Homo sapiens: one gene and its partner. The protein of the gene in region 1 interacts with the protein of each later gene in a biochemical or structural test. Each region holds a gene or a part of one and is shown in the gene's direction. Other genes may lie near its edges.

Region 1 (4,111 bases):
AAGAAATCGCTAGCGGTTCCTAGGTCACTGCACAGGGGGCTCCCAAGCCTCGGGCACACGCACTCCCTTCTTTTGCCCACCGTGTTCCCTTAAGACGAAAAGCAAAGAGAAAGAAAAGTCGCGTTTTGGAGTTCCCGGAGTTCTAGTAAACCTCCTGGAAGAGAAAGGCAGGGGAGGAAGGTCGGGACTGCGCGCTTCCCGGTCCCCGGCTCCCGGCCGGAGCTGGCCTTTCTCGCGGCCTCGAGGCAGGTGCGCCGGGGGCGTCTAGAAAGTGGGCTGCATTCTAAGAAGCCGAAGTTGGGCTCCTTAACGAACGCGCTGCGGACTGCGCTGGAGTCCAGGCTTCTCTGCTCGTGGGCAGCAAAGTCATTGTTTGAGAAGGAGCGTGCGGGACGGACCCTGCGGGCGCCGCGGCCGGCGTTTGACACCTGCGCTTGGGACACAATGGCCGCAGGCCCTCTTCGGGACCGGTGCCTTTCTCGGTGTTAGGGAACCTCTGAACCTGAGCTGTGTTTTCAAACAAACAAACAAAAATAACCAGCTCTCCCGGCTCTTCCCGGTGAACACACGTGAATTTTGGGGTCAGAGGGTTGTGAAGGTATAACTGCGCCATCTTACTCCTCACTCTTTTAAGTCGGACTTAAAAGGTTTTGCCATTATTTATAAGGTTCTTGGGGGCTTTTTTTAAACCCTCCCCAATTGTTGGGCTAATTCACTGTTTCCACAGAATCATTCCCACTTAGAACAGTACCCTATTTTTCTAGGTTTCTTAGGCATACAAAATGAACACAGGTAAAGGCATTTAAACAAAAGAAAAATAGCCGAAGAATTTGCTAAAGCAATATTCACTTTTAAAATGCAATTTTTCCCCTAAGGTTCGAGGAGTCTTGTTCGTAGCCGTTGAAAGTATTTTTCCATCCTAAAAATATCGGTGGAAATATTGACCAGAAATAAACTTTTAAATGATCTGTGATGTTTACAAGGATATGTCTAAAACGTTTATTACATTATTTTCCTCTTAATGTGAATTCTCCACGTTTGAAACTGTAACTCGTTTTCTCATTTTTTGTTCTTCTTGTTACTTCCTCATATTGTGTACTTGGAAATTACCTTTGTAAATACTTGAGAAATTCGTTCTTATATATAATTAATATAAAAAGTTTGCATTTCTCAAAAACATCTCTATCAAAGCCTGTGTTCTCACGAGTTTAATATCAAAGTCTTAATAAAATAATCACAACTACCCAAATGCTTATAAAATATGTTCGATTACTGGATTTTTATTCATTAAACAGAATTAATTTTATTTGACATATTTAAAGGCGCCATTTAGAAATAAAATTGCTTATTATGTTGCAATGCTGTATCTATTTCAGCCTCTACACCGTTTTCTTTTTTGTTTCACCTGAAACTAGTTTTCCCTTCCGTTTTTTTTCTTGTTCTATCAAGCTAATATATATATCAACATACAGTAATGGGGTGCTGGTTTTTGTAAGTTAAATATGTACCTGCATTAAATAAATAGTAAACATGTATATATTGCTTCTTTAGTACTTTTGTTCTGTGCTGCACACTATTTTAATTTCTAGTTTTAAATTATATCTCTCTTTTCAAAGCATCTGTTCAATAAGCAAGAAAAGATATTGGCAAAGTTGAAACCATTCTAGACAAATAAAATTCAAAGGTGCTAAAACTAGCAGTTTACACACCTGTGTTTATGAGAAATGAAAAGTATAACCATGTTCTTATCCAGTATTTAAAATTTATGAGAAACATAATACAGGAAAACAAGCATCTAAAATTGTTAATGTCCGAAATTGAAGTTATTTGTCCCCATTAGCCCAGTAGATTTTGTCTGGAAGGTGGAGCTGTGGATTTTTTTTTTTTTTAACTACTTGCCTCACCTCAGTGGTGTGATCCTCCCGTCCCAAGGAGATACAACATTGTATTTTGGAAAACTTTTCTAAAACTCTGAAAATTATTTACTATTTGGCTAAGACATCCTCCTTGCTTCTTAGAAGGTGAACACATACATTTCACCCCTGTTTTATAAGAAATGGAGATACCCATTCAAAAGGAAAATAATGTAGGAGAGGTTGAAGCTAAAATTGGGCAAATTCAGAAACTGATGCTATCCCTACTTCATTGTAGGATCAGGGAGTCCAGCCCCAAGCTAAAGGCATCCCCACTTTCCAGTGGGCCTCCTGCCTTTTAAATCTCCCACATTGCAGGAAAATGGAGGAAAGCAAAATAAAATGGCCAGGCGCGGTGGCTCACGTCTGTAATCCCAGCACTTTGGGAGGCCGAGGCAGATGGATCACCTAAGGTCAGGAGTGTGAGCCCAGCCTGGCCAACATGGTGAAACCCCATCTCTACTAAAAATAAAAAATTTAGCTGGGTGTGGTGCTGGGCATCTATAATCCCAGTTACTCTGGAGGCTGAGGCAGGAGAATCGCTTGAACCCAGGATCCTGGTGGAGGTTGCAGTGAGCCAAGATGCCGTTGCACTCCAGCCTGGGTGACAAGAGCAAAACTCCACATCAAAAAAAATAATAATAAATAAATTAATTAATTAATTAAATAAAACAAGAGCTTTTCTTTTTGCTTAATAAGAGAGAGTGGTGGTGGTGCTTTTTTATTCCTGAAGATGGGAAGTCCTCTTTTGCCCACTAACCTCAGAAGAAAGGGATGAGGTGTACCGTACAGGGGCAGTCACCTTCTCCTCTGTTTAGCTTCCATTTTGGCCTCATGTCTACCCCAAAGTTGTAGCTTAGATGGGGGGAAAATTCAGAATTTTGCATAGACCATAGGTAGCACCCCCTAGAAAAAGAATGTTTCTCCCCAGATGTCTCCCACTAGTACCCTAACCATCTGCTTGTCTGTCTAGTGAGGACCCTTGGAGGGCTGCTAAAATGATCAAGGGTTACATGCAGCAACACAACATCCCCCAGAGGGAGGTGGTCGATGTCACCGGCCTGAACCAGTCGCACCTCTCCCAGCATCTCAACAAGGGCACCCCTATGAAGACCCAGAAGCGTGCCGCTCTGTACACCTGGTACGTCAGAAAGCAACGAGAGATCCTCCGACGTAAGTGTTTTCATCCTGCCTCTGCCTCAACCTGAAGTGACCTTTGCCCTCTCACCCCATTGGCTGCCTCAGTTTCCCTTTCATCGACAAGGCCTTGTGAGCACTTGGCAGATATGAGGAAGGTGGCAAGTAGATTTGGCCTTGGTGGTTGCTGTACAATGGATTGGCTTCTGTCATGTTCTTCAGTCACAGCCCCCTTGCTACCCAGCCAGTTGCTCTGAGGAGCCTGTCAGTGTATGCAGCATACCTTAAACTTTTTGGCCCCTCCTTCCACCTCCTTCTCTTTGAAACCAAGTAGGTGACAGAGTGAAATGTCTTCCCTGAGAGAAAACCCAGCATCTCCCCTTGATACGTGACCATCAGTCAATTTCCAAAGAAGACATTTCGTTGCAGTCAATAATATTGATTACTATTACTGTTAATTTCCTCCTCTCTGGAAAAAGTATCAACAATAGAATGCATTTGTATAGAGAGATATATTCAGAACTTCACCCTGTTCTTGGAGGATAGTGGGAGGGATTGAATCCTGAGGCAATTTAAGGTGTTTACCCACATTTACCAACACTGGTAGAGTGTGGGGACCTCAGCTGGTGGCCCTGCTCATGAAGAAGCTATTTCTGGCTAAGGCAGGGCACAGGAAAAGCATCTGCATTTGGAACTCTGACCCATCAATTCTTGTCATCCCCATTCCCATCCCAAAGTTTTTTTTCTGTCCCAAGATTTCTCCCACCCAATAATTCTAAAAGGTTTTTGTTTTGAAGTACGTCTAGAGAAGTTTGAACTGCCTATGAATAACAAGAGTAGGAATGACATACTGTCTGTATTTTAGGAAAGTATTCTTTGACATTACACTTTCATTACTTTGATCCAATCCTTTTCCTGGAAAATTTGTATCGGTTTTCACTCTCCCCACACACTATCCTCTGGCTTTATCTAGGCTTCTCTGTCTTTATCAAGATGTTAATTTCCACCACTATCTGGGTTTCTGGGTTGGGTTTTTTCCCTGTTGCTTTTTAAAATGACTC
Region 2 (2,945 bases), on another chromosome or scaffold:
AGGAGGGTCGTGTTCAATCTTAATTAACTTATGCTCTCATCACTCATTTTAGTTATTTAATTGCCACAGTCATCTAGAGCCAATTTTTTTTTGTTTTTGTTTGTTTTGTTTTTAAGCACTCTGGATAAGGAAAAAATAGACACTTGTTTTTATATCATTTTTATGTACAATGTGAAAACAGATTTTTAAAAAATTTGTTCTCTGTCTTTGTTAACAAATTCCTTCCGATTTATGTGGGTTCACCTCTCACGTTTGCTGGATACTTACTTTACACCATGTTATGAAAGATGCTTTGTTTTCATTTCATGAGTTTGGGCTACAAGAATACTTTGTTTTAGCTCCAGGTAGATGCCATTGAAGGCATTCATGGCTGAAATCAATTCTAACACACTTACCGATGAATTGACAACACTTTGGTGTTTGGTCTTTTTTTTGTTATATTTTGTTTTATTTGAAGGGGAAAACAAAATTGTTAATGGTGACTTTTAACTGCTGAAATTCAAAATTTGATTTTAGTTAGGTTTATGTCCGAGACTAAACTGTGCATGAACCGAAACAAAAAGCAAGTTCATACCGCTGCATTCTGTTCTCTTGTTCTGACGGTTAATTCACTGGACATCAAATTTTCTTTGCCCTAGTTTTCCCCAAAAGAAAACAAAAGCAAAAATAGTTATATTAATGTTGAAAGTGCTTTGAAGTCACTTGATAAAAGGTGCTATGAATAGCAACTTACTGTGTTACTACATTGCCTTTTTGGCATTGGTTGATTTATAATTTTGGTAAAGGATCCTAAAACCCTGTATTCTTTTTCTGTGCCCCATAATGACCAAAAAAGATAAAGAAAATGAGAGTAAGATCAAAAGATCAAACTAAAACATAAACAGTCTCCTTCCTGTCTGCTTTCTTACCTATCTGTTCACACTTTATCTCTTTCCCTTTCTCTCTCTCTCTCACATGCGCGCGCGCGCGCGCGCACACACACACACACACACACTTGCCCCAACACTGAGAAATAATCTTGCCAGAATTCTGGTTTTTATAGTTGTTGTAGTCCGTTTCTCTAAAAATAGTCCTGTTTTCATATGAATCTAAGAGAACATTACCGGAGAAAATAAAGTTACTCATTTATAGTTACTAATAATAAGTTAGTGATTAACTTACCACAATTGGATAAAATATAAAACTATTCTTCAGCACATTTATACCTAAATTAGTGAAGTCCATTTGTGAAGTTCATTTGGCATCTGCAGTTAAGAGTTAACCATGTATAAAATCCCTCCCAAAGAACATAATCATCGTTAGAACCAAATCCTCTTATAAAGAACAAATATAAAAAAGTTTTCTGTGGTGAAGCTATTTTATAGATTTGATTTCCGGAGTAGAATTTTACCTTAATTCACTTAAAGAAAATTAACCATTTTTTGGTCCAACTTCAGATATTTTCTTAATCCAGAAGCTGTGACTGTTCCCAGAAGAAACCTCTTATATCACATTTAAAACATAAAAAATAATTACACTTTCACTCATTCTAATGGGTAAATTGTTGAATTGTAATAAACAACTGTATATTTACAAACAGGTTTATAAGGTATTTGTCTATCAAATTAATAATAAAATAAAACTTACGGGGTCTGCAAGGAAAACTATGAAGGCCACTTAAAGTGGTTCAGGTATCCCTTTGTCTTGTAGGGCATAGCTGTTGGTTTAGCCAGGCTTTTACAGTATTTAATTTTAAAGTATCCTATAACTATCAACTTCCCAGGTTGAAGACGATGTGTTGAGTTTCCTACTGATTGATTGATTCCTGTCCTCCCCAGTGTTTCCGTCACTGGTTCACTAAAACAGTATTTATATAGCTCCACTGGCTCTAAAGCTCTTAGTCCTTCTAATATTTTGGATTTTACAAGTAAAAATGGAAAAAAAATAGAAAAGAGACAATCAAATGCCTGGAGCTTAAAACAAAGTATGTGCAACCTACCATCTCACTTGAAATTTAATAAAATAATAAGTAATTATGTAAATATAACATAGAGTTATAGATTTATATTTTGTTCATAACACATAGTGTAATATAAGTTGTATATTTTCATGTTTTTGGTTTTATGTTATCATTCATGCCACAATAAAAATAAAACAGGAGTTTATGTGCTCTTAAAAAAAAGATGTGGGTTGCCACCAACCTGTTTTTCGTTTTTGTTTTTTGTTTATTTTATTTTATTTTTTTGCATTCTCCTTTTTCAGTATTACTGCCATGCAAGGCACCAATAAAAACAGCAAATGTGTTCTTTACTTATTATACTGTGTTTCTTTTCACAATTATTGTTATGAGGGTGTAATTAGTTTTATTATGAAAAGAACAAAAGTATGGAAATTTAATTTTGTTTTTAATATAAATAATCCCTCTTATTGAAGTTGACTTTAAGAACTAAAGGTTTAATTTTTAGCTGTGGACATTCCCAGAAAGACAGTCAGGACTTGATATAATGCATTTCACTCAGACAGATCTAGCTTCACCATACTGTCAAAAGATACTGTTCTTATATGTAATTGATTCAACACAATTGAAAACCCAACAGTCTAAAGCACCTTTAATATTGTTGTTTTCCCTGGCTGGACACTATCCTTGGGTGGGGGATGGGGGGTTTCTATGCTTTAGAATTGTGCTTTATCCTTTCGTTTGTATAGAAGATTTATAAATTTCAGATCATGAAATTACTAAGAACTATGAATAATTTTCACCTCGCTGGTATCTCATTTTGAATAATGGATATTTCTGAATTGTTTAACATTAGCCTCTCAGTTCTACCTTAAACTTTTTTAGTGAATGTTAAAAACAAGAAGTCTCCTTTCCTTTCAATGGCCATTTTTGCTTGTCTCTTCCACCATAATATGTTTTTCTACCTTGATAGTTCTATATGTAATAGTTTCATTTAAGGGTGTTTGCT

The links. Proteins that work in one complex are often made in the same cells at the same time.
Region 2: the proteins of HNF1B (region 1) and SOX5 form a complex in vitro, tested with the Homo sapiens proteins (one study listed by BioGRID).

Annotation. Positions count from the first base shown.
Region 1 is NC_000017.11:37,738,415-37,742,525, reverse strand, and holds part of HNF1B (hepatocyte nuclear factor 1-beta), read left to right. Parts: intron 1-2,886; coding exon 2,887-3,086; intron 3,087-4,111. UniProt on the Homo sapiens protein: Transcription factor that binds to the inverted palindrome 5'-GTTAATNATTAAC-3'. Binds to the FPC element in the cAMP regulatory unit of the PLAU gene. Transcriptional activity is increased by coactivator PCBD1.
Region 2 is NC_000012.12:23,528,848-23,531,792, reverse strand, and holds the end of SOX5 (transcription factor SOX-5), read left to right. Parts: 3' UTR 1-2,289; downstream 2,290-2,945.